3 separate regions of the Homo sapiens genome follow, and all the other regions are linked to region 1. Evidence: fine-mapped expression QTL. A gene starts in region 1. Each other region holds a variant in brackets. All regions are shown on one strand. Distances are between the middles of the regions.

What was found.
Region 2: its variant is fine-mapped to the expression of LINC02878 in sun-exposed skin (GTEx, PIP above 0.99).
Region 3: its variant is fine-mapped to the expression of LINC02878 in liver (GTEx, PIP 0.98).

The regions. Positions count from the first base shown.
Region 1 is chr8:143,692,204-143,702,397 of GRCh38, forward strand. LINC02878 (long intergenic non-protein coding RNA 2878) reads left to right here and starts at 4,912. Exons shown (of 2, transcript NR_015445.1): 1 at 4,912-5,438; 2 at 5,736-6,210. It overlaps ZNF707 (zinc finger protein 707), which reads left to right. Exons shown (of 6, transcript NM_001100598.2): 6 at 1,468-3,182. The coding sequence ends at 2,327. RefSeq lists an enhancer at 7,591-8,091.
Region 2 is chr8:143,662,016-143,672,209 of GRCh38, forward strand. LOC105375799 (a long non-coding RNA gene) reads left to right here and starts at 1,103. Exons shown (of 4, transcript XR_928737.3): 1 at 1,103-2,353; 2 at 3,902-4,024; 3 at 5,830-5,902; 4 at 6,204-6,472. RefSeq lists enhancers at 7,031-7,531, 7,532-8,032. The variant G/A (reference allele first, on the strand shown) is at 4,938.
Region 3 is chr8:143,851,202-143,861,395 of GRCh38, forward strand. EPPK1 (epiplakin 1) reads right to left here. Exons shown (of 2, transcript NM_031308.4): 2 at 6,123-10,194. The coding sequence ends at 6,786. Among named protein-coding and RNA genes, the nearest start is that of NRBP2, 15 kb to the left of the region's middle. RefSeq lists an enhancer at 6,543-7,045. The variant G/A (reference allele first, on the strand shown) is at 6,299.

The DNA of each region.
Region 1 (10,194 bases):
GCAGTTGTCAGCAGGGTTTTGCTTTTTACTTACATTTTCAGAGTGGGATGGAGCAGCTATGTGAACACGAGCCCTGGGAGGTCCCCGGGTATGTGGAGTCCCCGACTGTGGAGTGTCAGGTTCCTAGGTGTGTGGAGCCCCCGACTGTGGAGTGTCAGGTCCCTGGGTGTGTGGAGCCCCTGACTCTGGAGTGTCAGGTCCCCGGGTGTGTGGAGCCCCCGGCTGGGGAGGTGTCGGATCCCCGGGTGTGTGGAGCCCCCGGCTGGGGAGGTGTCGGATCCCCGGGTGTGTGGAGCCCCCGGCTGGGGAGGTGTCGGATCCCCGGGTGTGTGGAGCCCCCGGCTGGGGAGGTGTTGCATCCCCGGGTGTGTGGAGCCCCCGGCTGGGGAGGTGTCGGATCCCCGGGTGTGTGGAGCCCCCGGCTGGGGAGGTGTCGGATCCCCGGGTGTGTGGAGCCCCCGGCTGGGGAGGTGTCGCATCCCCGGGTGTGTGGAGCCCCCGGCTGGGGAGGTGTCGGATCCCCGGGTGTGTGGAGCCCCCGGCTGGGGAGGTGTCGCATCCCCGGGTGTGTGGAGCCCCCGGCTGGGGAGGTGTCGCATCCCCGGGTGTGTGGAGCCCCCGGCTGGGGAGGTGTCGCATCCCCGGGTGTGTGGAGCCCCCGGCTGGGGAGGTGTCGCATCCCCGGGTGTGTGGAGCCCCCGGCTGAAGGGAGCCATGGCTCTGAGGCTGAGTGGTTGAGAATCAGGTGGAGCTACCCGTCTTCTAGACGACATCCTAGCACCACCTCCACCCGCATGAGTGGGGCCTGCTGGCGTGGACAGGGTGAAAGGACATTCTCTTGGCCCAGTTGCTTCTGTTGGTTGGCAGGCATGTGTCGGCTCTCCCTCACGTCAGCAGTGCCGGGTGGCCTGCGTACCACCGGGGCTGGGGAAGCATCTGAGCTCATCTTGGCTTCCGCTGTTGATACCTGTGGCTCATCTGTGTTTCTTTGAACGAGTTTTCCTGATCACTCGTAACCATGTGGAATGAGCTGAGTCAATGGAAGCCAGTCCACGCACACAGCAGGAGGGTCCTCTGGGCTTTTTTTTTTTTTTTGAGACGGAGTCTCGCTCTGTCGCCCAGGCTGGACTGCGGACTGCAGTGGCGCAATCTCGGCTCACTGCAAGCTCCGCTTCCCGGGTTCACGCCATTCTCCTGCCTCAGCCTCCCGAGTAGCTGGGACCACAGGCGCCCGCCACTGCGCCCGGCTAATTTTTTGTATTTTTTTTTTTTTAGTAGAGACGGGGTTTCACCTTGTTAGCCAGGATGGTCTCGATCTCCTGACCTCATGATCCACCCGCCTCGGCCTCCCAAAGTGCTGGGATTACAGGCGTGAGCCACCGCGCCCGGCCTCCTCTGGGCTTTGCTGGAGGCACTGCCTGGCTGTGGGCCACTGGCTCTGTGTAAGGGTGTCTGTTCCTTCCACAGGGGCAAGGAAGTCTGCAGACCCCAAGAGACCTTGTGATCATCCAGCTTGGGCTCACAAGAAAACCCACGTGCGGCGAGAAAGAGCCAGGGAAGGAAGCAGCTTTAGGAAGGGCTTCAGGCTGGACACGGATGACGGGCAGCTTCCCAGAGCTGCTCCAGAAAGGACAGACGCCAAGCCCACGGCTTTCCCGTGTCAGGTGCTCACGCAGCGTTGTGGGCGGCGGCCGGGCCGCAGAGAGCGCCGGAAGCAGCGCGCAGTAGAGCTGTCATTCATCTGCGGCACGTGCGGGAAGGCGCTCAGCTGCCACAGCCGGCTGCTCGCTCACCAGACGGTGCACACGGGAACCAAGGCCTTCGAGTGCCCCGAGTGCGGCCAGACCTTCCGGTGGGCTTCAAACCTGCAGCGCCACCAGAAGAACCACACGCGCGAGAAGCCCTTCTGCTGCGAGGCCTGCGGGCAGGCGTTCAGCCTGAAGGACCGCCTGGCTCAGCACCGCAAGGTCCACACCGAGCACAGGCCCTACTCGTGTGGCGACTGTGGGAAAGCCTTCAAGCAGAAGTCCAACCTTCTCAGACACCAGCTGGTGCACACCGGGGAGCGGCCGTTCTACTGCGCGGACTGCGGCAAAGCCTTCCGGACCAAGGAGAACCTCAGCCACCACCAGAGGGTCCACAGCGGGGAGAAGCCCTACACCTGTGCCGAGTGCGGCAAGTCCTTCCGGTGGCCCAAGGGCTTCAGCATCCACCGGAGGCTGCACCTGACGAAGAGGTTCTACGAGTGCGGCCACTGTGGGAAAGGCTTCCGTCACCTGGGGTTCTTCACGCGGCATCAGAGGACTCACAGGCACGGGGAGGTGTAGGGGCGCCCGAAGAGTGGGGTGCTGCGCCTCTGCGGGAGTACTGGGTCCTGAGGGAGAGCTGCAGTGAGAAGTTGCTCTTCAGCCTGGAAAATCAACCTGAATTCAGAGAAGCCTTCTTAGTCCTCAGAGCTCCCCAGTCCCCCGAGAAGTTTACTGGGAAAACTGCCAGGTGGGAGAAGCAGAGCCATGGGTACGCCGGAGATGGCGGGGGCTCTGGAGATGGCGGGGGCTGCGCCCCGGCGCCGGGCATCCTGGGGATGTGCTGAGAGTGTGCGCGACCCCGGAGCCACGTGCCAGGCCGGGCTCAGAGGCGGAGAAGCCTGCCTGGTGCCCACAGCCGTCTGGCTCAGGGACTCCACCCTGGCCCCGAGTCGCCGTCTGCTGGGCCTTTCCTTCCTGGCTCTGCACCCCATGCTGGCTGCCCGGTCTGGCTTCCCTTCTTGTCTCTGTCTTGGGCGAGGCAGCTGTGAGCATTGCACAGAGGCAAAGACCCTCCTGCAGCCTCTGCGCTGGGCCGTAGAAACAAGAGCCTTTGTAATACTGAACCTCATTCAAGGATTAGGAGTGGTGGTTAGGTCAGGGCCACCCCCAGTGCTGCAGGAACGGCCTCCACCCAGCTCTGTTGGTCAGAGCCTGGGTCATGCACCTGGAGTTGGGAGATCAAGTTGGGTCTCAGGGCAGTGAGGTGGCCATATCCACCACATCGCATTTCGTGGGGGAAGAGGTGACCTCTTTGTTTTAAACTTAAGGTGTCTGCTTATCCAGCCAGAAATAAAAATCTGCCAGTGGTGTTCCCAAGGGAAGACCCCCGTGGGAATGGGTCGGGACACTGCCGTGTTTCAGGTTAGCCAATTATTTTTGCTTTTGCCTGTTTTTCTTTAAGAATTGCAGCCAGGCCAGGCGTGGTGGCTCACGCCTGAAATCCCAGCTACTCGGGAGGCTGAGGCAGGAGAATCGTTTGAATCCGGGAGGTGGAGGTTGTGGTGAGCCAAGGTTGCGCCATTGCACTCCAGCCTGGGCAGTAAGAGTGAAACTCCGTCTCAAAAAAAAAATTCCAGCCAACAGATGCATATGTAATGTTGGAATCAGAAACGAGTTTACAAGAAATAGGGGGATGAGGAGAAGGTTGAACACACCGAGAGGAAGCCCTGAGCCAGATCCGGCTGGAGATGCCACCAGACGGCGACGTTTCTGTGGGAAGACGGGCACGCAGAAAGGCCGAGGGGGCTGTGTGTGACCCTGGTAGGAGCAAACCGAGTGCGAAGTCACTTTTGAGACAATCATGGAAATGTGGGCACGGGCCGTGAGTCGGGTGGGTAGGCCGTGAGTCGGGTGGATGGACTGAGTCGGGTGGGTGGGCCGTGAGTCGGGTGGATGGACTGAGTCGGGTGGGTGGGCCGTGAGTCGGGTGGATGGACTGAGTCGGGTGGGTGGGCCGTGAGTCGGGTGGATGGACTGAGTCGGGTGGGTGGGCCGTGAGTCGGGTGGATGGACTGAGTCGGGTGGGTGGGCCGTGAGTCGGGTGGATGGACTGAGTCGGGTGGGTGGGCCGTGAGTCGGGTGGATGGACTGAGTCGGGTGGGTGGGCCGTGAGTCGGGTGGATGGACTGAGTCGTGTGGGTGGCCGTGAGTCGGGTGGGTGGGCTGTGAGTCGGGTGGGTGGCCGTGAGTTGCGTGGTGGGCCGTGAGTTGCGTGGGTGGGCCGTGAGTCGGGTGGGTGGGCCGTGAGTCGGGTGGGGGTGCGGAATTGGCTGCTAGCGGTGATGGTGACACAGGGTTACGGAGGAATCCTCACTCAGATGCATTTGGACGTCTTTGTGGGGAAATGACGTGGCGCCTGGGATGTACTTTACGATTCTAATAAAGAGGAGAAAGACACAACAGTATTGGCTGAATGTTGACAGCTGTTGAAGCCGGGAGGTTGGTGTGCTTAAAAGTTCCCCAAATCTTTTATTTGCAGCATGAGTATGAGTTTCTTCGTGCTCACGGAAGATTGTAGAGAGCAGCTGTCGGTCATGGAGTCACAGGGCTGCCTTACCAGGACACCACCGGCAGCCCCACAGACAACACAGGTTTATTCTCTCCAGCTCTGCAGGCTGGAAGTCCGAGGTAGAGGTGCCAACAGGGTCCGTTTCCGGCGAGCGCCTCCTGGTTCAGAGGCATCCTCATGTCAGGAGGGGCTTTGGTGTCACCTTTTCCTTGTGAGGGCCCGGATCCCATGACCCCTATCACCCCATCGAAGCCAAATCACCTCCCAGAGACCTCCTCATACCATCACGTCGGGCCTAGGGCTTCCACATGGGAATTTCAGAGTGACCATTCAGCCCGTAGCAGAAGCTCCTCTGGGTCTGTCCTGGCCCACAGACCCTGTGTAGGAAAAGCACTTGCCCCTGCGGGGCAGGCCCTGGCAGAGCCCGGTGAGGCAGTGAGGGCCCTGCAGGATAAGTGGAAATCTCCCCAGGGGGGATATGGGGGTGCCTTTCTCTTACAGAGTCCAGGCTGGTAAAAGCGCATGTGTGTTTCGTGTCTGGTTTGTCCCCTGCCCAGCGGGCGCCGTTGGAAGGGCCTTCAGGTGCTTGAGCACAGGTGGGGACGGAGCAGCTGGTGTCTCGGCAGTAGATGCGGCGGATCATAAGGACTTGGGTTTTGAGCGCCCTGCAGGAAGCCACTGGCCGCGTCCAGGGTCACCTGTGCCTGGTCGTTAGTCCCTCACAATGCTGTCACTTTGTGACGCTCTTGTGCAGGATTAAATGTGAACAGCAGAGACGTGGGTGATGCGCTGCCTCGTCAGATGATGGTCAGTTGTCCAAGCGGGCTGCCTTGCTCTTGGTGGCCTCATCATCCAGGGCTCACACACTGGATGGTTGGGCCACAGTCGCGGTACCCCCCGGGCTGCAGGCTTTCCACCCTGCTTAGCAGGGCTCCAGGGCTCCGGGTAGAGCAGGGGGTCCCTCCCTTGGCACTTCCCCAGGGAGGAGCACGACCGTGCTCAGCTGCGGTCAGGCTGCTGCTCTTAGTTGTCTTTCCTTCTAACACTCAGGCTTCCCTTCCTGCCTCCTGGGTCGCTGAAGAAGGTCAGGTCCACAGAAAAGGCCTGGGGAGAGAATGGTGGTGAGGAGCCCATGGGGGTGTGAGGGGCCGGGAGGCTCTGCATCTTGCCCTGTTGGCCTCCTCACCACCCAGGCGGGGGTGGGGTGACAGAAGGGGCTCACAGCAGGTGTCCCGTAAGGAGCATCTTCCTTCCTGGGGCCAGCAGCCGTCACTCCCTGTGAGCCTGTAGAGCCGAGTTTTCTCTGCATTTATCTTGGGCAGAGAATGCATGAAGCTACTTCGCGGCCAGAATGGGTGCACAGCAGGGTCCGTTGACAGCCATGCCTGTGACCTAGCCTTCCACCCCTCTGTCTCCAGGGGACACTTGCCTGGCCTTTGTGTTAGCGCTCAGCACACATGTGTCCAGTGTAAAGTCCACCAAGATTAGCAGGGCATGGTAGCTGCCGCCTGTAATCCCAGCTTCTCAGGAGTCTGAGGCAGGAGAATTGCTTGAACCTGGGAGGCGGAGGTTGTAGTGAGCCAAGATCGTGCCACTGCACTCCAGCCTGGGCGACAGAGTGAGACTCCATCTCAAAAAAAAAAAAGTCCGTCGAGAGAGCAGGTGGCGGATGCAGCTGAGAGCTCCAGGAATGGGAGGGCCACGTGGTAGCCACTGGCAGCCTTGACTGAAAGATGAAGGAGTCCATGGTGCTAGGAGGAGGAGTTGCATCCCAGCAGGCTCAGCTCCTGGAGCTGCCTCTCTGCACTCTGAAGGGAGGCCCAGTGGCTGCAATATTCTTCTTTGGGAAGTACAATGCCAAGTAAATAAAGATATTTGGGGTCATTCTAGTTACAACGTATCATAAACTCTACTCACTGTTGTTCTGGGTGTTCATGGGGTCCGCCGTGCGTACCAGTCTTACAGGTCCTCAAACCCATTGGGACCCTTCAAACGAAGAGTGTGCGTGTGGAGTTGGCAGAACCTGACCCGGGCCAGGGTGGAGGGACAGCTGCGTCACTGAGTGCATGTCCAGCCCTAATAGCTCGCTTCGTTGTGTTTGTATCTGTGACCTCTTGGGAGCTAAATCACAGGCCCACCAAACGAAACGTTTTGGGGAATGTGAAATGGGTGGGTTTTGAGCTGGTCCCCAGTGTGAGCTTAATGTTGGAGCCATATTGGATTTTAAAACTTCAGAGGCTCCTTTTCCCGGGGCCAACCATCCTATGTAAAATTCGAGGGCCGATGGTGGAAGCCTGGAGTCCGGTTACAGTGGTAACTCCATGAGGGGAGACCAGCTGTCATGCACCTGAGCACCCAGAATCACTCACACTCCCCACTCCTCCCCTCCCCACACGTGCACACTTAGGAAGTGTGGCAGCCTGACTGCAGGAGAGCCATGATACCACACACAATCCAAACAAAGGCAGAGCAGCCCCGCCTTAGGACAGGTGAGCCTGTGGCCTGCACACCCATTGCCACAGCTGGAGGGCTGTGTCCTTTCCACAGAGGGGTCGGCCAGCCTCGTCTTCTGATCACACTACTTCAAAGGTGCTCAGTCCACTCACCCCACCTCCAGCTGCAGTGTCTCCACCGGGGACCACGACCACCATGTCCATGTTCAAGCAATTCTCTGCCTCAGCCTCCCAAGTAGCTGGGATTACAGGCACCCGCCACCACGCCCAGCTGATTTTTGTGTTTTCAGTAGAGACGGGGTTTCACCATCTTGGCCAGGCTGGTCTTGAACTCCTGACCTCGTGATCCACCCGTCTCGGCCTCCCAAAGTGCTGGAATTACAGGGATGAGCCACTGTGCCCAGCCACCTCAGGGCCTTTTTGCAACTCCGGATGTGGGAGATGACAAAACCACCATGCAAAGAGGGGAAAGGGCGGAAACAATTTATTTGAAAAGGAATAAGGAAAGTGAGTGACTAGTTAAAATTTCAGTATTTGGACACTGCTGAACAGATGTCGGGTGGATCCAGCAGCCGGGGAGCTGTGGTGGGCTGTACGGCGGCCGCCGAGCAGTAGGACACGGTCTCCATCGCCCATCACCTTCCTTGGGGTTTACTCAGCAACTCGGCTGGCCGCGGCCCTGGAGCCGCATGCCTGAGCATCTAAGGATTTCCTAAAGGGGCCTGAGGTCTGTCACCTGGACACGTGGCGAGAGACAGGGAGTGACCCTCTCAGATGACTTACAGGTTGGGAGAGGAGAGATGTCTGAAGGGAAATACACCAAGTCTTTTGTGGCAACTCAACGAAACTGATGGCTTCTGCCTTGTTCTTCAGGGCAGGTCCTCCTGGCCAAATCTGTTCAGCGTGCAGATGCAGACCTAGTCCTACTCTCTTCCTGATTCCATCTCTCCCTTTAATCCCATAGATAAAATCCAGCCCTAGGCTGGGCGCGGTGGCTCACGCCTGTAATCCCAGCACTTTGGGAGGCTGAGGCAAGCGGATCACTTGAGGTCAGGAGCTTGAGACCAGCCTAGCAAACATGGTAAAACCCCATCTCTACTAAAAATACAAAAGTTAGCCAGGGGTGGTGGTGGACGCCTGTTGTCCCAGCTACTCGGGAGGCTGAAAATGCACTTCTCCAATCCCCCTTCGGCTGCCCTTCCTGGTAGGTGCTGAGTGTTGCTGGCCACAGCCCTCAGGGGCCGCCACCTTTGCTTTGACCTTCGCTGACGCAGATGTCTGTTCCAAGGTTATGCCCCTTCCTGGGGCCACATCCAGGAACTAGTAGATGGAGGGGTGCTAACGCCTGGCCCCGTGGCTCCTCTCTCAAGGACCATCCAGCTGCAGACCCCCACACAAGCCCTGCCACGCCTGCATGGAACTCGCCTCTCTCTGCACAAGCTCCCCACAGCAAACCCCCTGCTGAGTGGCCCGGGGTTGGCCCTGGGTGTCTGGCCCCACAGCACAGCGGATCAGACCTTCCACTTGGGGCCCAGAACACCCAGGCTCACGTCCTCTTCCTTGCTCGAGTACTGCCCTGTCCTGTCCATACACAGCCAAATCCCCTCGCCGTGGATCCCCGGGGTTCTGATTGGTCTGATGTGAAGAGAGATGTTCTCTTGCCAGAAGGGGTGGAATGCAGTTGGGGTTCCCTTGGCCAATACATCAGGCAACTTTTGTCTACAAAAGAGAGCTAAGTGCACGTTATTTTAGTGAAGTTTATTCCGAGTTACAATTCACACAGGCCTTCTGCTCTCCAGGAAATACAGCACAAAGGGTAAAGCCCCCTTACTGCCCCTACTCCTGTGGAATGAGCTTTCCTGATGGTGGAGTGTGTCCACTGTGAAAGCTGCCGCTACCAACATGGAGTCGGGGTAGCCCTGAAGTCCTCAGATACAGAGGCCTGTGACAGGACGCAGCCCAAGACACTCCTGCACGGAGACGGTTCCAGGACCCACAGGGCGCCCTCAGGGTTGCCTACCCCAGACGGACGCTTGCCCAGCAGTGACTGTCTCAGCCCACGCACTAATTCCAGCTCCTGTAACAGACTCCTGTAAAAGACCCTTGGCTTTGAAAACAGCTTATGTGGGCTTCTTTTTTGTTCTTGTTTTTGTTGTTGTTGTTTTTGAGATGGAGTCTCGCTCTGTCTCCCAGGCTGGAGTGCAGTGGTGCAATCTCGGCTCACTGCAACTTCCGCCTCCTGAGTTCAAGCGATTCTCTTGCCCCAGCCTCCCAAGTACCTGGGATTACGGGCGCAAGCCACCACACCCAGCTAATTTTTGTATTTTTAGTAGTGACTGGGTTTCTCCATGTTGGCCAGGCTGGTCTTGAACTCCTGACCTCAGGTGATCCACCCGCCTCGGCCTCCCAAAGTGCTAGGATTACAGGCGTGAGCCACTGCGCCTGGCCCTTTTTGTTTTTAAGATTCCCCTTTTCCCCAACTCCCCTGGATACACCTATAGCCTGCCAAATACCCCGAATTGCAATTCTCTGCAATTCTCAAATCAACTCGCTTATTTGGAGAGCTTGTCTCTTGAGTTTCTTTTTAGGTTGACACAACAAATACTTGTCCAACACCTGTGTAGGCACAAACCTGCGTGTGTGTGCTCCTCATCGTGTGGAGTCGTCCTGTGCGCCCCGCATGTGCTTCTTCATTCCGTCTGTGTGCGCTCTTTCCAGCAACCGCATGCTGTCCCATGAATGTGTCCTGTGGAAGGACACAGCCTGCAATCCCAGCGTTTTGGTGCTGTGAATTCCGCCGCAGTGAATGTCTTTGCTCTTACATCTGTGTGCACACGTGCCTGTATCCCCGCTCTTGCGTCTGTGTGCACCTGGGCCTTGCCAGGTTCCTGCAGCTGCTGTAACAGGACACCCCAGACCAGGTGGCTTCAGACAACAGAAATGAATTCTCTCAGTTCTGGGGGCCTGATGTCCACAATCCAGGCATCAGCAGGGCTGTGCTCCCTCTGAAACCTGTAGGGGAAGGATCCTCCCTTGCTTCTTCCAGTTTTGAGTGTTGCCAGCAGTTCCTGGCAGTTCTTGGCATGTAGAAAATCACTCCAATCTCTGCCTCTGTTGGCACACGCGTTCTCCCTGTGTCTCTGTCTTCATGTGACCAGCTTCTCATAAGGACACCAGTTACATTGGATTAGGGCCTACCCGCATGACCCCAGCTAATGACATCTGCAACAACCTCATCTCCAAATACAGTCATGTTCTGAGGTACTGGGGGTTAGGGCTTGAACGTAAATTTTTCAGGGGACTCTGCAACCCACAACAAAGGTACACAATGGATTCCTAGAGGTCGATCTGCTGAGTCAAAGAGCAGGGCTGTTTTAGATTTAATAGCAGCAGCCAGCCAACAAAATCAGGAGCGTTCCACACT
Region 2 (10,194 bases), 30 kb before region 1:
GTGCCTTCCTGCTCCTTCTTCACTTGCCTTCGGGGCACTGTGGCCCTGTTTGCTGGTGCCTTCCTGCCCCTTCGCTCGCCTTCGGGGCACTGTGGCCCTGTTTGCTGGTGCCTTCCTGCCCCTTCGCTCGCCTTCGGGGCACTGTGGCCCTGTTTGCTGGTGCCTTCCTGCTCCTTCTTCACTTGCCTTCGGGGCACTGTGGCCCTGTTTGCTGGTGCCTTCCTGCCCCTTCGCTCGCCTTCGGGGCACTGTGGCCCTGTTTGCTGGTGCCTTCCTGCCTCTTCGCTTGCCTTCGGGGCACTGTGGCCCTGTTTGCTGGTGCCTTCCTGCTCCTTCTTCACTTGCCTTCGGGGCACTGTGGCCCTGTTTGCTGGTGCCTTCCTGCCCCTTCGCTCGCCTTCGGGGCACTGTGGCCCTGTTTGCTGGTGCCTTCCTGCCCCTTCGCTCGCCTTCGGGGCACTGTGGCCCTGTTTGCTGGTGCCTTCCTGCCCCTTCGCTCGCTGTGCTGCAATGTGGGCATGTTCTGTGGGTTTGTCTTCAAGTCCATTGACCTTTTCTTTTGCCTTTGAGGTCTTTTTTGTTTGTTTATTTTGTTTTGTTTTTATTTCTAAAAGGTCACCTTAGGTTCAGAAGCCTTTGTGGTCTCATGTTCATTCCACCATTGAACTTTTCATTTCAGATGTAGGTTTTTCAGCTGTAGAAGTTCTACTGGATTCTTCTTTATACCTTTCATTCCTTTCCTCATTACCACGTTTTCCTTTAAACCTGTGAAATTACTCATTTGGCTTTTTAAAAGTTCTTATCTGCTAATTCCACCATCTTTATCATGTCTGGATGTTCTTCAGGGTTTTGTTTTGTTTTGTTTGAGATGGAGTCTCACTCTGTCACCCAGGCTGGAGTGCAGTGGCGCGATCTCAGCTCACTGCAACCTCTGCCTCTCAGGTTCAAGCGATTCTCCTGCCTCAGCCTCCCGAGTAGCTGGGACTACAAATGCACGCCACCACGCCCGGCTAATTTTTGTATTTTTAGTAGAGATGGGGTTTTGTCATGTTGACCAGGCTGGCCTCAAATTCCTGACCTCAAGTGATCTGCACACCCAGCCTCCCGAAGTGCTGGGATGACAGGCATGAGCCACCACACCCGGCCTGGATGTTCTCCAGCTGATGGATGTTTCTCTTGGCTATGGGTGACATTTTCACCTCTGTGTGTTTAGTAATTTTTTTGATAGATATTGTGAATGTTACATTGTTGAGGGTCTGAAATTTGTCTTCCTTTCAAAATTATTGAATTTTTTTGCAGGCAGCTTAATGACTGTAGATCAGCTTAGTCCTTTGAGGCTTGTTTCTGAGCTTGGCTGAGGCTGGTCTACAGCGGCCTTTACTCCAGGTTAGCCGTGCTCCTGGTAGGGCTGGACCCTTCGCAGTTCTCACTGAGTGCCGCCACTGGGCAGCAAGGCCCACCACTCTGGCTCATCACACTTTGAGCACCTCCCAGGCCTGCAAGCTATTTGGGGATTGTCTGCTGTCAGCTCCCCGTGGCTTGTGGCCTGGCCCCATGGTGTGTGCAGCTTAACGTTCATCCAAACACTCATGGCAGCACTGGGGACTTCCTCTTCATGGGTCCCAGTTTCTTTCTCGTACTGGACCCCATAAATGCGAGCCTTCTGTACCTCCCCAGAGTCCAACCTCTGCCTCCTCAACTTAGTGAGTTGATACCATGCCTGTGTTTCCCCTTCATATGCTGTATTCTAGAAAATGCCACCAGGCAGAGAGCTGGCATCATGGGAGGTGCCCCCCCCATCTCCATCCTCCTGGGCAGGTCACAGCACTGCACCCTCCAACATCTAACAGCAGCTGTTGCATGGATTTTGTCCAGCTTTCTAGTTTAGGGCAGGAGGGCAAGTCCAATACTTGTTAATCATGGCTGGAAGGGGAGGTCACTGTACCATTTTTTATGTAACCGGTAAATATAAATTGGTAAGGAGTTGACAATCCTATTAATTTGGAGTCAGCTACCTGGTGGCTATCAGTCTCATTCTCTCTCCTGCCCACCTTTCCTGCCTGTGTTCCTGGCGTTCTTTTTGAAAGCAGGCTGCAAGCAGTCACATCGTCACCCTGGGGCATTTCCCTGTGCTTTGTGCTGCCTGGAAGAGCTCATAGCCAAGGAAGGGTGAAGACGGCGCGCTGCGGTGTGCGGCTTCTAGGCTGTGGAGCTCTAGTGTTGCCTTTTGGGTTCAGGGACCCACTGGGCCACTGTGAGGTGGGCTGGAGCTGCATTTCACCGACTGCCTTGCTGCAGGAGCCCTGCTCTGACTGGAGGGCCACAGAGCACACCGGGCCCCCCCGTAAGCCAGGTACGAGACTACCCGTCTCCTGCAGCAGGGCTCGGGGACCTCCCCATGGAGCCACAGGCATGGGCTTGGGGAGAGGCCCAGTGGAGAATAGAGGGTGGCACGGGGACCTGGGCCATCCTTGTGCCTTCTGGACCTGCCCAAGCCCAATCTTGGACTCCACTTCCATCTCCCAGTAAACTCCTGACGGCCCCTTGGATGTGCGACTGGTAGCTCCGACAGCACCCAGTCACGATGGGCAGCGCCAGTCTCATAAACACCGTGGCCTCCACGGTCAGGGCCCGAACACTTGCCCGCACCACCTACCAGCTGGTGGAGTCCCCTGAACATGACGGGGCCCTGCGCCGGTGGCCTTGGGCCTGGGCTGCACATCCTGCACTGAGGCTCGTCATGGGCGCCACTCGTGTCTTTGCCACACATGTGAAGCCTGTGGGAACTTCACGGCCACATGACCCACGTGGCAGGACTGCCTGTCACCCAGCCTGGGCCTGCCTCAGCCCCTTCCCTTGCTCCAGACCCCACTCAGAGCCGACGGCTTTCCCTCTCCCCCGCCAAGGGCAGAACATATTGCCTTCAAGCCCAAAGAGGCATCGGGCCTGCCCCAGCACCCTACAGGCCACCGCACCCTGAGAACATTGCTCATGGGGCAGGTCTCTGAAGTGTACGGAGTCTGCCTCCTGCCCTCCACAGCGCCCGTGTTTTTCTGAGGCCATCAGCGCACCTGCTATCTCTGCATGAGTCCAGTGCCCATTAAGGCATCCACTGAATGGGCCAACCTTTGCTCGTGGACCATCCAGTGGGTCAGGCCTTTGGGCCATGTTGGGACGAGGCACCCCACTCGGTTCTGGAGCGACCGTACCTGTGTGCCGCTGTTGGCCCCGCGTGGGCAGGAACTGCTCCGATTCCCCTTCCAAACAGGTTTCGGAAATGATGTGTTTATCAGACCAGTAGCCAAAAACCACATGCACGTGGCCACATCAGTCTCTTCTGGAAAGACCATGTGGATGGCCACAAGCGTGCCTCAGCTACTACTGTTTAAGCCTGTGGTAGTCCACTGCTGTCCACCACGGTCATGCAGCTTCCGCAGGGGTTGGGTTTCCAGATTGTAAGGCGGGTGGGGACAGGCAGATGGGGACAAGGGGGACAAGAACAAGAGGGACAGGGACAAGGGAGTGTATGGGGACAAGGGGAATGGGGATGAGGGGGATGGAACAAGGCGGGTGGGGACAAGAGGGACAGGGATAAGGGGGATGGGGACAAGGAGGGCAGGGTAAAGGGGGATGTGAATTAAGGGGACAGGAACAAGGTGGATAAGGGGACGGGGACAAGAAGGATGAGGACAAGGGGGATGGGGATGAGAGGGATGGGGATAAGGTGGGCGGGGATGAGGGGGACAGAAACAAGGGGGATGGGGATGAGGTGGGTGGGGACAAGGGACAGGAAGAAGGTGGGTGGGGACGAGGGGCACAGGGACTAGGGGCACTGGGACGAGGAGCCTGGGGACGAGGGGGATGGGAGCAAGGCGAGTGCGGATCTTTTACGTCTTCACAGGTGGCCTTAACGCCTGCCATTCTCCACAGAGGGTAGAGTTGCAGGAGCTTCCACTTTGATTTTCCCACTACAAGACTCACTCTGTTGATCAAGGAACCAGTTGAGGTTTTGCCCAGTTGCCAGGTGTGTCCAAAGTGATTTTGTTCCTTTCACAGGACATTCTGCCTCCCTGACAGCGCGGGGGATGCTTCCATGGCCTCCACAAGTTATAAAATACTCCAACACCAGTAGTATGTTAGTTACACCAGGGTGCCATTAAAAATACTGCAGAGTAGGTTACTTAACAACAGAAATTAATTATTCTCTCACAGTTCCGGAAGCCAGAAGAGACTAAAGTGTCCCAGGTTGGGTTTTGCCGGAGGCTCCTCTCCTTGGCTTGCCGATGGCCGCCTTCTTGCTGTGTCCTTGTGTGGCCTCCCTCCCTCCTCCGTGTGCACACACATCCCATGCTGTATCCCTGCGTGGCCTCCCTCCCTCCGTGTGCACACACATCCCATCCTGTGTCCCTGCGTGCCCCTCCCTCCTCTGTGTGCACACACATCCCATGCTGTGTCCATGCGTGGCCTCCCTCTCTCCGTGTGCACACACATCCCATCCTGTGTCCCTGCGTGCCCCTCCCTCCTCTGTGTGCACACACATCCCATCCTGTGTCCCTGCGTGCCCCTCCCTCCTCCGTGTGCACACACATCCCATGCTGTATCCCTGCGTGCCCCTCCCTCCTCTGTGTGCACACACATCCCATCCTGTGTCCCCGCGTGGCCTCCCTCCTCTGTGTGCACACACATCCCATGCTGTGTCCATGCGTGGCCTCCCTCCCTCCGTGTGCACACACATCCCATCCTGTGTCCCTGCGTGCCCCTCCCTCCTCTGTGTGCACACACATCCCATGCTGTGTCCATGCGTGGCCTCCCTCCCTCCGTGTGCACACACATCCCATCCTGTGTCCCCGTGAGGCCTTCCTTCCCTCCATGTGCACACATATCCCATCCTGTGTCCCTACGTGGCCCTCCCTCCTCCGTGTGCATGTACATCCCAC[G/A]CTGTGTCCATGCGTGGCCCTCCCTCCTTCCTCCATGTGCACATACATCCCATGCTGTGTCCCCTCGAGGCCCTACCTCCCTCCATGTGCACACACATCCCATGCTGTGTCCCCGCAAGGCCCTCCCTCCCTCTGTGCAAACACACATCCCATGTCTCTCTGTGCATCCAAATTTCCTCCTCTTAGAAGGACCCTAGTCAGATCAGGTTAGGGCCCACCCAAAGGCCCCATTTTAACTTTACTACCTCTTTAGAGGCCCTATCTCCAAATCCAATCACATTCTCAGGTACCGGGCATTAGGTTCAGCATTTCAATTTGGGGGGAAACAAATCAACCCATAACAGGTGGATTTCCCAAAGCCTGCATTATTCAATTGTAATCAAACACACATTATTATGTATTTTCCCTGTAAAATAAGAGACAAGATCCAGGCTTGGTGGCTCAGGTCTATAATCCTGGCACTTTGGAAGGCTGAGGCAGGCAGATGCCCAGGAGTTTGACACCAGCCTGGCCAACATGGCAAAATCTCGTGTCCACAAAAAATACAAAAATTAGCCAGACGTGGCGGCATGCACCTGTTGTCTCAGCTACTCAAGCAGCTGAGGTGGGAGGATTTCTTGAGCCCAGGAGGATGAGGTTGCAGTGAGCCAAGATCGCACCACTGCTCTCCAGCCTGAATGACAGAGTGAGACCCTGTCAAAAAAAAAAAAAAGGCAAGGTTTTCTTCCAAGTGGGAAGAAAGATGGTGGATAGGATTTTTACGGAGTGTTGAAAGAGCTACTTGGAGAATCAGAAAGAAGATTAGTTGTTGGGAGGCACAGAGTGAGTACTGAGAAAACCAAGGGCCCAACTGAGGCTTGAAACTGCCAATTCTCCATTTACTGTCTTTCAGCTTCAAATACATACTTCATCGCCTGCTTGGTGAAAATGGAGCTGGGCCCTAAATTGTTTCTCCTTTAAAGCAGGTATGACGTTAAGCTTTGTAAGTAGAGGGCACTGGAGGGACCCTGCAGGAGGAAAGTGCTTCTCTTCCTGTTCTGCACTTTCTTCTGTTTTCTTCTTGTTCCTGCCATGTGGCTGCCAGCACACTCAGTGTTGCTCACCCCCAGCCAACTTCACTTGCAATGCCATGGGTGGATCCCCGTGAGTCTTGCAGATGCTCCACTGGTCAGCATCCAGCCTCAGCCTGCCCCAGAGAGGTGTTTCCTGCTTGCCAGTCCTGGCCAGGCTCCCTACCTGCCACCTTCAACCCCTCTACACCTGCAGGAGTGATTGCCCATTGACTGTGGACCAGCTCTGGCTACGGGAAAACCAGAGAACCTCTCCATCATCCATACTGCACCAAACAGCATCTCTGCAACCACACCTTTTCCAAGATTTGAGCCCCAGCCTTGGGGAGGAGGCCATCTTTCACATTTTCTCCTTCCTTGGGAACTCTCTGTCAGCCCAGAGTATTCTTTTGCATTATCTTTAGCCCTGTACAGATAATTCCATTATAGTAAATAATCCTTTATATTAAACGTTCCTTGCCCAAATGACTGTGCAGTTTCTGTCTGCTGATTGATTGCGCCCTGATGCAGAAAGGTAAAGTAACTTGACATGTTGCACAGCTGGCCCACACAATCACACAGCTGAGACTGCACAAGGACAGCTTCCTCTCAAATGTGTTGGAAATAAGAGCTTGGAGTCGCAAAGAAAATGAGCACTCAAGGCTGGGCGCGGTGGCTCACACCTGTAATCCCAGCACTTTGGGAGACCAAGGTGGGCAGATCACGAGGTCAGGAGATCTAGAGCATCCTGGCAAATATGGTGAGACCCCGTCTCTACTAAAAAAAATACAAAAAATTAGCCGGGCAAGATGGCGGGCACCTGTAGTCCCAGTTACTCGGGAGGCTGAGGCAGGAGAATGGCGTGAACCCAGGAGGCGGAGCTTGCAGTGACCTGAGATTGCACCACTGCACTCCAGCCTGGGCAACAGAGCAAGACTCTGTCTGAAAAAAAAAAAAAAGAAAAGAAAGAAAAAAAAAAAAAGAAAATGAGCACTCAAATACTAAAAACACACACAAAAAATTAGCCAGGGCTGGTGGTAGACACCTGTAATCCCAGCTACTCAGGAGGCTGAGGCAGGAGAATCGCTTGAACCTGGGAGGCAGAGGTTGCAGTGGGCCAAGACTGTGTTACTGCACTCCAGCCTGGGCAACAAGAACAAAACTCCATCTCAAAATACAAACAAAAAAAAACTTCCACTGGCTTTTTTTTGAGTGCTCACAAATTTGCCTTCTCAGCAAGGCAAATTTACTTCTGCAGAAGAGTGCCGCTCTCTCTTCTGGCCACTGGGAGAGCACACCGAACAAAGCAGGGCAGGGGTGTTTATCCCTAAAGCAGTCACGCCCTGCTACTGTGTCCAGTCCCCATTGGCTGGAGTCGCACCACACCATCTAAGCCGATCCCCATTGGCTACTTCAAATGGATCAGGGGCGGCTACAGTGGCCAAATAAGGAACAGATGTGGGTTTTACAGGTTGGGCTGCAGATTGGGAACAGATGTGGGTTTTACAGGTTGGGCTGCAGATTGGGAACAGATGTGGGTTTTACAGGTTGGGCTGCAGATTGGGAACAGATGTGGGTTTTACAGATTGGGCTGCAGATTGGGAACAGATGTGGGTTACAGATTGGGTTATAGATTGGGAGTGGCTGGAAGGTTGTTTGCTGTAAAGTGGAACCTTTGAAGAGGAACTCACTGTATCTAACAAATGTAAATCCAATTATGTCGAGTCTACTTCAAAACTTCCTGCCAGGTGTGGTGGCTCACACCTGTAATCCCAGGAAGTGGGCACGTTTTCCATGGCCAGAGCAGGAGGAGGAGAGGAGTGGGGAGGTGCCACATACTTTTTTTTTTTTAATTCTCCAATTTAAAACTTTTAGTTAAAAAGTAAACTTTAATGTTGAAAATGCAAACTTGGGGCAGGTAGAAAGATTACACACAAGGCTATCACTTCACATTTGGAGGGTTGCACAGCAGCCGGGCAAAGGCGCTCCTCACTTCCTAGACAGTCGGGGGACCCGGGCAGAGACGCTCCTCACTTCCCAGACAGTGGGGGTACCCGGGCAGAGGTGCCCCTCACTTCCCAGACGATGCCGAGGCTGGGGTGCCACATACTTTTAACAGACCAGATCTCAAGAGAACTCACTATCACCAGAAGGGCACCAAGTGGGAAATCCGCCCACATGATCCAATCACCTCCCACCAGACCCCACCTCCAGCATTGAGGATGACAGTTGACATGGGATTTGGGTGGGGACACAGACCCAAACCATATCACTCCTGAAGAGCTAGGACTACAGGAATGCTATACCTGGCTAATTGTTTTTCTTTTTTTCGTTTGTTTGTGTTTTTTTTTTTTTAGATGGAGTCTCACTCTGTTGCCAAGGCTGGAGTGCAGTGGTGTGATCTCAGCTGACTGCAACCTCCCAGGCTGGAATGCAGTGGTACAATCTTTGCTTACTGCAACCTCTGCCTCCCGTGTTCAAGAGATTCTCCTGTCTCAGTTTCCCGAGTAGCTGGGACTACAGGCGCCTGCCACCACGCCCAGCTAATTTTTTATTTTTAGTAGAGACAGGGTTTCACCATATTGGCCAGGCTGGTCTTGAACTCCTGTCCTCAGGTGATCCACCTGCCTCAGCCTCCCAAAGCGCTGGGATTACAGGAGTGAGCCACTGCGCCTGGCCACACCTGGCTAATTTTAAAAAAATTTCTTGTAGAAATGAAGTCTCACTATGTTGACCAGGCAAGTGTCAAACTAACTCCTGGCTTCAAATGATCCTCCTGCCTCAGTCTCCTAAAGCACTAGTATTAAAGCTGTGAGCCATCATGGTTAGCCTGTTTTTATATCTGGGAACTGTTGCTGTACAAAAATCAAATATGGGGTTGGAGTGGTTCACATCTATAATCCCAGCACTTCAGAAGGCTGAGGTGGGATGATTGCTTGAGTCTAGGAGTTTGATACCAGCCTGGACAACAGGAAGTCTAGGCTGCAGTGAGCTGTGTCGGGCTGCTGCACCCCAGCCTGGGCAACAGAGCAAGCCCTTGCCTCAAAAAAAGAAATCAAATATGAAGACTAAGAGTTTTAGGATTTGGTGTTAAGAGGTTTTGTTTTGCGTTGTTTTGAATTTTTGTGGGCACATAGTAGGCGTACGTATTTATGGGGTACATGTTTTTGTTTCTTTTTTTTTTTTTTTTGAGACAGAGTCTCACTCTGTCACCCAGGCCGGAGTGCAGTGGCGTGATTTCAGTCCACTGCAAGCTCCGCCTCTCAGGTTCAAGTGATTCTCCTGCCTCAGCCCCCGAGTAGCTGGGACTACAGACGAGCACCGCCACACTTGGCTAATTTTTGCATTTTTAGTACAGACGGGGTTTCATCATGTTGGCCAGGCTGGTCTCGAACTCCGGGCCTCAAGTGATCCACCTGCCTCAGCCTCCCATGGGGTATACGTTTTGATACAGGCGTGCAAAGTGTAATAGTCACATCATGGATAGTGGGGTATCCATCCCCTCAAGCATTTATCCTTTGCGTTACAAACAATCCGATTATACTCTGTTACTTTAAAATGTACAATTAAATTATTATTGAATATAGTCACCCTGTTGTGCTATCAAATACTAGGTCTTATTCTTTCTAATTTTTTTGTACCCATTAGTTAAGGGTTTTTTTTTTTTTGAGACAGAGTTTCACTCTTGTCACTCAGGCTGGAGTGCAGTGGTGAGATCTCGGCTCACTGCAACCTCTGCCTCCTGGGTTGAAGCGATTCTCCTGCCTCAGCCTCCTGAGTAGCTGTGATTACAGGTGCACGCCACCATGCCCGACGAATTTTTGTATTTTTAGTAGAGACAGGATTTCACCATGTTGGCCAGGGTGGTCTTGAACTCCTGACCTCAGGTGATCCACCCACCTCGGCCTCCTGAACTGCTGGGATTATGAGACTTACGGTTTACCAAAGGGGTGCGATGGGCCTTCTGTGTGGTGTCCGCATCCTCTCCTAGCTGGTTTCGGGAGAGTGCCGGCCCTCTGGGGCCTCTCTCCCTGGCTCGCCCTTTAGAAGGGGTTCACATAGTTAGAACCTTAGCAGTAAAGGTAACCTGTGCCTTGCGCAGGGCGGGGGACCTGGTGGGGACCCCAGAGGCAATGGTGTCAGCCCCGGTTATGGACTGGCGTCACTTGCGGCAGCCAGGTCCCACATGCACCCACCCTAATTTAATT
Region 3 (10,194 bases), 160 kb after region 1:
ACGTGCCGGCTCATGTCTGTAATTCCAGCACTTTGGGAGGCTGAGGCAGGTGGATTGCTTGAGCTCAGGAGTTCAAGACCAGCCTAGGCAACATGGCGAAACCCCAGCTCTACAAAATCTGCTGGGCATTTGTCTTTGACTTTCTAGTCCTTAAAAAAAAATCAGCTGGGCATGGTGGCACACACCTGTAGTCCCAGCTACTTGGGAGGCTAAGGTGGAAGGATCGCTTGAGCCCAGGAGTTCGAGGCTGTAGTGAGCTGTTGTACCACTGCACTCCAACCTGCGTGACAGAGCGAGACCCCATCTCAAAAAAGAAAAAAACAAAAAAAAAGAAAAAAGAAAAATGTGAATCTGAATATTCACTCGTTTTTTCTTTTGGGATTCTTTCCATAACATTCCTAATTTTCTTGCCACTAGAAGGATGACTTGGGCTGATCGGGGAGAAAATCTCTTTTTCGGATAGGAAGAAAAAAGCCACACGAATGTTAAAACTAACAAAAACAACAGTGTGCTTCTCCTTTCTGTCATTCTTGTGGATGTTTTTCAAACACTTCCAGGATTTGAATTTTATTTGTACTCACAACTGCTGAGTGAGTTAAGTGTTATTATGATGACCTTTTTTTTTCTTTTTTCTTTTTTTTGAGACAGAGACTCTGTCGCCCAGTCTGGAGTGCAGTGGCGGGATCTCAGCTCACTGCAAGCTCCGCCTACCGGGTTCAAGTGATTCTCCTGCCTCAGCCTCCTGAGTAGCTGGGATTACAGGCACCTACCACACTCAGCTAATTTTTGTATTTTTAGTAGAGACAGGGATTCACCATGTTGGTCAGGTTGGTCTCGAACTCCTGACCTCATGATCCACCCGCCTCGGCCCCCCAAAGTGCTGGGATTACAGGCCTGAGCCACCGCGCCCAGCCATGATGACCATTTTACAAAAAGGGAAACTGAGGCACTGAGCCATGAAGTCACTTTCGGAAGAGCCCACAGTTATGAAAGAGCAGTGGTGGCACCAAGGGCAGGGGTTCCATCCCAGGACTTGCCATCTGGCCCTTTGTAGGAGCATCCTTTGTACTTAGAGATTGGAGAGAAATTTTGTCAAAAGATCCCAGGAGTCTCCAAATCTACCCTGGTTCTAAACGTGAGGCGCAAGTACCTGGAGCATGGTGACTGAGGGACTCCCCTGGAGTGTGTCTGCCTCCCGTCACCACCTGCCCCAGAGAGTGCCACGTGCGAGTCCCGCTGGGAGGCCCCTGCGTCCTGCTGCCCCGCGGCGCATGCTGCCCAGCGCCCCAGCCTCCTGCACCCAGGCCTCCTCCCAGTCTCCAGCCGGCTGCTGTCCATCCAGATGCCACTCCAGTGCAGCCAGTGGAGCAGGGCCAGGAGTGTAGGTGGCCTGACCATCCCCTTCCCCAGGGCTCTGAGAAAGGCTTCTCCTCCAGCAGTGTTTCTATCCGGGGGGCACAGGGCAGCAGTGACCAGCACAAGCTTGCGGGGCGAGGACACAGCTTGGAGTTGGGCGCTCGTGAGTTCCCACCCTTGCCTTGAGGACCTGGGCTTGTTACACCCCCAGGACTCCGGTTCTTCACCTGTAAAATCAGAAGAGCACTTCTGGAAACTTCTGGGCTGGCAGAGATGGAGCACAGCCACTACAGCTCCTCTCTCCCTTTGGACAGAATATAAAAAGCGACTCCTGGAGGACTGTGAAACGCTAACAGTAGCAGCTGGCTGGGGAGGAAACTCAAAACTTACCAACAACTGGCATGGAGGTTTACTGTTTTTGTTTTGTTTTGTTTTGTTTTTCCCCAGCTGTATGTGCGGCTTTGATCTGAGGATGGGGGTGTCTCACAACTGTGCCGTGGGTGCAAAGACCGACAACCCCAATACAAACCCGCCTTTCCCTCTGCAAATAAGAGTGCGTAGGAGAAACCCCCACTTCCCTCTCCTTTCTCTCCTAACCCTGTCCCGGCCTGCTCTTTGGTGGCATCACAGACCCCTGCGATCCTGCACGAGATTCCACCTGTATTGACAGAGGAGCTGGGCACAGGGCTCTGTGGTCCAGAGCGTGTGTGTGCAAGGTCCCTCTCTTATTTTCCCTGTCTTTTCTCTTGCTGTGTTGCCCCGAGCAGGGCCCAAGTCGTGTGAAATGGATGACAGCACAAGGAACTAAGACTCTGAGAAAAACCCTGGCTTTCTAAATGGACTCCTCCTAGGAGCCTGAGTGTATGGGAACCCCACAGAGCAGCGACCTGGAGGAGGGGCCTCCACGCTGAGCATGAAACAACACAAGCTCGGTGCTTGCCTGAGCTGAGCAGCACGTGTGGGGAACAGGCCGCACAGCAACAGCCTTGAGAATTGAGCCAACACGGATCCACTGCACACAGCGGCTGGGATACGGCTTGTGGCCTGACCCAGCCGGGATGAGTGCCCGCCAAAGTGAAAATGCCAACATTCTCAAGCGCGTTCTCGCAGGGCTCAGAGCCTCGCATCTGATTATTTAAAACATCCAGGATACAACCCCAAATTACCCAACATGCCAAGGACTGGAAATTGGATCCGGTCTCAGGGGAAAAGACAGACAGTTGCTGGCAGAACCCCAGGACTCAGATGCTGGAGGGACCAGGAAAAGATTTCACAGCAGCAATTCCAGCCCGATGCTCCCCGCGGCAAGAGTGGACACCCCAAGAATGAGTGAAAAGACAGACGTTCTCAGCAGGTGGAAATGGTAGAAGTGAAAAACATATTACCTGAAGTAAAAAATCACCTGAAGTAAAAAAGCTGGCCAGGCACAGTGGCTCATGCCTGTAACCCCAGCACTTTGGCAGGCCGAGGCGGGCAGATCGCTTGAGTCTAGGCGTTTGAGACCAGCCTGGGCAACATGGAGAAACCCTGTCTCTACTAAAAGTACAAAAATTAGCCAGGCATGGTGGCACACAGCTGTAGTCCCAGCTATTCAGGAGGCTGAGGCATGAGAATCACTTGAACCCAGGAGGCGGACTCCGCAGTGAGCTGAGATCACGCCCCACTGCACTCCAACCTGGGCAACAGAGTGAGACTCTGTCTCAAAGTAAAAAAAAAAAAAAGGCTTACTGAGTGTCTCAATAGCAAAAGGGGGATTACAGAGGAAGGAGTCAGTAAACTTACAAAGAGATCAATAGAAATTATCTAATCTGAAAAACAGGAGAAAAGATTTTTTAAAAAAATGAACAAAGCTTCAGAGAGCTGTGAAACAATATCAAAACATCTATCACTTTTGTATTTGAAGTTCCAGAAGGGGAATGGAAAGATATTAGTACATAAAACATTTATTTTGAAGAAATAATGGCAGAAAAGTTCTCTAATTTAGTGAAAGATATAAACTTATGAAAATCAAAAAGTTTGGCCAACTCCAGATGGGATAAACTCAAATCAAATATTTTATGTATTTATATGTGTAAAATTCCTCACCAGCAGACTTTATTTACTTTTTTTGAGAGGACACAGCTTGGAGTGGGCGCTCATGAGTTCCCACCCACGAGCCAAGGTGGACACTCACTCTGTTGCTCAGGCTGGAGTGCAATGGTGTGATCTTGGCTCACTGCAACCTCCACTTCTTGGGTTCGAGTGATTCTCCCACCTCATCCTCCCGTGATTATAAGCAACATCACGCCCAGCTAATTTTTGTATTTTTAGTAGAGACAGGGTCTTACCATGTTGGCCATACTGGTCTTGAACTCCTGACCTCAAGTGATCTGCCCGCCTTGGCCTCCCAAAGTGCTTCACCTGCCAACTTTAAAAGAAAATGCTAAAGAAAGGTATTTAGCCTGAAGGGAATGATACCAGAGGGAACCTGGAACTTCAGGAATGCAGAAAGAGCAATGGAAATGGTATATATTTAGAGAACCATAATATGCTGTTTTCACTTTTTAAATCATTAAAAATATCTGGTAGCTCACGCCTGTAACCCTAGCACTTTGGGAGGCTGAGGCGGGCGGATCACGAGGTCAGGAGATCGAGACCATCCTGGCTAACATGGTGAAACCCCGTGTCTACTAAAAATACAAAAAATTAGCCGGGCATGGTGGCAGGTGCCTGTAGTCCCAGCTACTCGGGAGGCTGAGGCAGGAGAATGGCGTGAACCCAGGAAGCTGAGCTTGCAGTGAGCTGAGATCGTGCCACTGCACTCCAGCCTGGGTGACAGAGCGAGACTCCGTCTCAAAAAAATACATCTGTATATCTATATATCTATATCTATATATCTATATCTATATATCTATATCTATATATCTATATCTATATATCTATTTATCTATATATCTATACATCTACATATCTATCTATATCTATATCTATGTATCTATTACTGCTGAGGCTGGGTGCGGTGGCTCACGCCTATAATCCCAGCACTTTGGGAGGCCAAGGTGGGCAGATTGCCTGAGCTCAGGAGTTTGAGACCAGCCTGGGAAACATGATGAAACACCACTGAGTAGAGACTAAAACACAAAAAAGCCGGGCATGGTGGTGCGCACCTGTAGTCCCAGCTGCTTGGCAAGCTGAGGCACGAAAATCGCTTGAACCTGGGAGGGAGGCGGAGGTTGCAATGAGCCAAGATTGCACCACTGCACTCCAGCCTGGGTGGCAGAGCAAGGCTCTATCTCCAAAAAGAAAAAAAAAATCTATACTGTTGAAAACAAAATTGCCACATTACCTGGTAGGATTTTCAATGCATGTAAATCTGATAACATGACAAAGATAGAATGGGGGGTGGGGGATGTGGAGGAAGAGACCACACCTCACATGAAGTGGCAGAGCGGAGACTCTAAGAAGACTGTCAAAAATCCTAAGTATACTGTAATCTCCAGGGCGACCAATAAAAAATTAGAAAACAATGGCCCAAAGCCAGTAAATTTAAATGGAACACTAAAAAATATTCCAATAATCCAAAAGAAGGTAGCTAAGGGAGGGGAAATGAACAAAAAACAGAGGAGGGAAAGGAAACAAAGAATAAGTCCAAACACATAATTACATAAAATGTAACGGTATAAATGTGCCAATTCAAACATAGAAATTGTGAAATTGGATAAAGATAACCCCACCCATTAATATGCTGCCTAAGGAGGCTCACTGCAAATACAATGACAAAGACAAGGTAAAGGTAAAAGGATAGAAAGACGTGGGTCCCATCACCACTAATCAGGCATGCTAATTCCTGCTTCAGCATTGCTGTAAAGTTCACAGTGAGAACTTCCGCAACACAGGCATCGGGCACACACACAGGACTTCCTCAAGAACAACAGGAAGAATGTGGTTGAAAGCACCCTGCTGATGCCTTTCCTCCACTTGTTTTTGAAGGTTCTCCCTGTCCCCCTTTTCAAGGCTAGTGCCCTGACCGCATCCCCCATCCTAGCCTTCATCATTGGTTGCACGTGGTCTGGATGAGAGCTATTAAGCGGATTGTGCCGAGTGCCTACTTTGGCATCTGTGAATGTTCGCACATGTGAACCCCACTACTGTTTCCATTTCCTTGTGGCCCCGTCCCCTCAAACCCACCTCCAGATGGGCCAGATGCTCCTGCAAAGGCCACACAGACCCTACCAGGGATTTTCTAGAGCCTGGGAGGCACATTTTGATGAGTTACCCTGGTGTCATTTCTGCCCTGAGGCCACTGGCTCTTCATCCAGAATGTCCAAGCCCTGTCCACTCTATCTGCCCTCGCTCCAGCCAGTCTAGCACAGGGAGTGTCCTCCACGGCGTCCATGCCCAGCCCGCAGGCCCCCAGGAGGCCAACCACACACAGCCACCAGGCAGAACACATGGATTCTTGCTGTGTTCTGCTACCATTGGAGACCAAGTGGCCCAGACGCCAAAGGCAACCCATGTGTGGAGTGAATGAAGGGGGGACTCGAAAGGGCTTGTTCTTTGTCACCTGCTCCAATTGCCACACTTCCATTAACAATGAAAGTTCTTGGTTCTCCCAGAAAACTTTGAGCAAGACTTAACTGCAACCTGTGTGCATAAAATTCTGAGATACGGCTCTAGGAACCCTGGATTTTGGACGGCTTGCTTCCCTTGTTTAATCTACTATCTGTATATTAAGGGCATAAAGATTAGTGATTGAACCTTCAAAAACCTGAAATCAAAAACAAGAGTTTCCTTCATATTTTACTTGTTCAGAATTTTTCCTAGTAAATTACTACAAAAAGTTCTTCTCCACAACAGACTCGCTCAGTCAACGCTAGTGAGGTCACACCTCTAAGGTGGAGCAGCAGCCAATGGAGAGAATAAAGCCCATGCTTTTGGCCAGCACAGCAGCCAGGGAAAGCCC[G/A]GGGAGGAGGACCGAAATAGAGCCAGGGCACTAAATAGTAGACACTGGCTGATGGAAAATGAGTTTGAAGATGAACGTGAATAGCACATCGTTAGGGAAATAACCGCATGTAATAAAAATTACACTGCAACAAGAGTACCCGATGGCATGATGGACTGAGAGTCTAAAGAGTGACATTCTGTAAAATGGAAGCAGTGAATCCAAAACAGACAGAAAAATGTTCTGAAAACGAAAAAGGAGAGAAAAGTAAAACCATATGACACATAGACGACCCAGAAAACACACCAAAAAACTTATGAAACACCTCGATGGACAAAGGAAAAGTTTCTGTCACATGACAACTTAAAACGTTTTCCACAGATAACGAATGGGTAAAACAACAAAATTAAAGAATGACAAAAAAAAAAAAAAAAAAAAAAACAACCCAGACACACAAGTATGCCTCCACTTCTCCAGAGTTGCAGAAAACTGCACGGAGGAAGCCCAGTCACTGTAGAGAGAGAGAAAGAAATAGGAGCCCCGTCTCAGGGTCCAGGGTGGCCCTCTGCAGAAGCTGCAGGTACGTGAGGTTCTCGTGCGTGTTGGGGTCGAAGAAGCCCTTGGTGTCGTCGCTGGGGTCGGCCAGGACGCGGTTCATCTCCTCGTCGAAGTAGCCGCGCCGGTAGGCCACGTCCACGGGCACGCGGTGGCTGTGCACGGGGTCGATGACGCCGCCCGTGGCGATCTGGGCCTCCAGCAGGCGGATGCCGTGCTCCCGGACGATGAGGTCCTTCTGCATGGCCTGGAAGAGGGAGATCTGCTGCCCGGTGTAGGGGTCGGTGTAGCCGGTGACGGCGCGCTCGGCCGACAGCAGCTTCTCCTGGATCTCGCCGCCCACCACGCCCGCGGCCACGGCCTCCTCCACCGACAGCCTCAGGTTGCGCACGGGGTCGATGACGAAGCCGGTGGCCGCCTGCGCCTCCAGCAGCACCAGGGCCGTGCCGGGCCGCAGCACGCCCTTCCACATGGCCTGGTAGATGCTCATCTTCTCCTGGCGGCCGGGCTGGTCCTTGGCGGGCACCAGGACGCCCGCGATGCAGCTGGTGCCCTCCAGGTAGCGCTTGACCGAGTCCATCTCCGTCACCTCCTGCAGCGTCTTAGTGCCCTGGGCCAGGTCCCGCAGGGTCTCGGGGCCCAGGATCCCGGACGTGTGCAGCTCGGAGGCGGACACCTGGCGCCTCAGGCCGCGGAAGGACACCTTGCTGAGCCGCTCCTCCGTCTCCTCGATGACCCGGGTGAGGACGGCGACGAGGTCGGGCAGGCCCAGGGCGCCGGCCGCGTGCTGGGCCAGGAGCTCGTCTCGGTGGGCCTCGCTCAGGTACGAGGAGAAGAGGACGTCCCACACGGAGACCGGCCGCCCCTGGAACTGCCCGCGCTGCACCTCCATGGTGGCATCACGCAGGGTCTGCTCCTGGCGGCGGGCGGCGGCGGCGGCCTCCTGGGTCTCGCCCTCCCCCTGGCCCTCTCGCTGGGAGCGCCCCGAGTCGCCGTCCCCTCGCCCGGCTGGCCCTGGCTCCCGCGGGCCGCGCCAGGCGTCCTGGAGCTGCGGCCGGGCCCCGGGGGCCTCCTCGGCCTCCTCGATGATGGCGGTCAGCCGGCGGGTCAGCGCGGGCAAGTCCAGGGTCCCCGAGCCAAACTCGGCCAGCAGCTCCTCCCGGGCGGCCCCGCTCACGTAGCCGGACGCCAGCACGTCCCACACGGGCACCGCGCGCCCCCGGAGGCGGCCCACCTTGACCTCCATGGTGGCCGCACGCAGGGCCTCCCGGGGGTCTGGGCGCGGGCTCCCGGCCTCGGCCTCGGCCTCGGCCCGGGCCTGGGCCTGGGCCTGGGCCAGCAGCGAGGTGAGGGTGGCGCCCAGCTCCTCCACGGTCAGCGTGCCCGCCCGGTATCTGCTCAGCAGGTCCTGGCGCCGGTCCTCGGACACCTCGCGGTAGAAGAGGAGCTCCCAGACGGAGACGCTCTGGCCCTGGAGGGCGCCCGAGCCTGGCATCACGCGGGCGTCGCGCAGGGCACAGCGCAGCTCCTCGCTCAGCTGGTGCACGGCGGAGCCCCGGCCTGCCAGCTGCAGCATGTAGAGCCCGGTGTCCGGGTCGGGCACGCAGCGGCGCAGCAGCTGCACGTACGTGAGGTTCTCGTGCGTGTTGGGGTCGAAGAAGCCCTTGGTGTCGTCGCTGGGGTGGGCCAGGACACGGTTCATCTCCTCGTCGAAGTAGCCGCGCCGGTAGGCCACGTCCACGGGCACGCGGTGGCTGTGCACGGGGTCGATGACGCCGCCCGTGGCGATCTGGGCCTCCAGCAGGCGGATGCCGTGCTCCCGGACGATGAGGTCCTTCTGCATGGCCTGGAAGAGGGAGATCTGCTGCCCGGTGTAGGGGTCGGTGTAGCCGGTGACGGCGCGCTCGGCCGACAGCAGCTTCTCCTGGATCTCGCCGCCCACCACGCCCGCGGCCACGGCCTCCTCCACCGACAGCCTCAGGTTGCGCACGGGGTCGATGACGAAGCCGGTGGCCGCCTGCGCCTCCAGCAGCACCAGGGCCGTGCCGGGCCGCAGCACGCCCTTCCACATGGCCTGGTAGATGCTCATCTTCTCCTGGTGGCCGGGCTGGTCCTTGGCGGGCACCAGGACGCCCGCGATGCAGCTGGTGCCCTCCAGGTAGCGCTTGACCGAGTCCATCTCCGTCACCTCCTGCAGCGTCTTAGTGCCCTGGGCCAGGTCCCGCAGGGTCTCGGGGCCCAGGATCCCGGACGTGTGCAGCTCGGAGGCGGACACCTGGCGCCTCAGGCCGCGGAAGGACACCTTGCTGAGCCGCTCCTCCGTCTCCTCGATGACCCGGGTGAGGACGGCGACGAGGTCGGGCAGGCCCAGGGCGCCGGCCGCGTGCTGGGCCAGGAGCTCGTCTCGGCGGGCCTCGCTCAGGTACGAGGAGAAGAGGACGTCCCACACGGAGACCGGCCGCCCCTGGAACTGCCCGCGCTGCACCTCCATGGTGGCATCACGCAGGGTCTGCTCCTGGCGGCGGGCGGCGGCGGTGGCGGCGGCGGCCTCCTGGGTCTCGCCCTCCCCCTGGCCCTCTCGCTGGGAGCGCCCCGAGTCGCCGTCCCCTCGCCCGGCTGGCCCTGGCTCCCGCGGGCCGCGCCAGGCGTCCTGGAGCTGCGGCCGGGCCCCGGGGGCCTCCTCGGCCTCCTCGATGATGGCGGTCAGCCGGCGGGTCAGCGCGGGCAAGTCCAGGGTCCCCGAGCCAAACTCGGCCAGCAGCTCCTCCCGGGCGGCCCTGCTCACGTAGCCGGACGCCAGCACGTCCCACACGGGCACCGCGCGCCCCCGGAGGCGGCCCACCTTGACCTCCATGGTGGCCGCACGCAGGGCCTCCCGGGGGTCTGGGCGCGGGCTCCCGGCCTCGGCCTCGGCCCGGGCCTGGGCCTGGGCCTGGGCCAGCAGCGAGGTGAGGGTGGCGCCCAGCTCCTCCACGGTCAGCGTGCCCGCCCGGTATCTGCTCAGCAGGTCCTGGCGCCGGTCCTCGGACACCTCGCGGTAGAAGAGGAGCTCCCAGACGGAGACGCTCTGGCCCTGGAGGGCGCCCGAGCCTGGCGTCACGCGGGCGTCGCGCAGGGCACAGCGCAGCTCCTCGCTCAGCTGGTGCACGGCGGAGCCCCGGCCTGCCAGCTGCAGCATGTAGAGCCCGGTGTCCGGGTCGGGCACGCAGCGGCGCAGCAGCTGCACGTACGTGAGGTTCTCGTGCGTGTTGGGGTCGAAGAAGCCCTTGGTGTCGTCGCTGGGGTCGGCCAGGACACGGTTCATCTCCTCGTCGAAGTAGCCGCGCCGGTAGGCCACGTCCACGGGCACGCGGTGGCTGTGC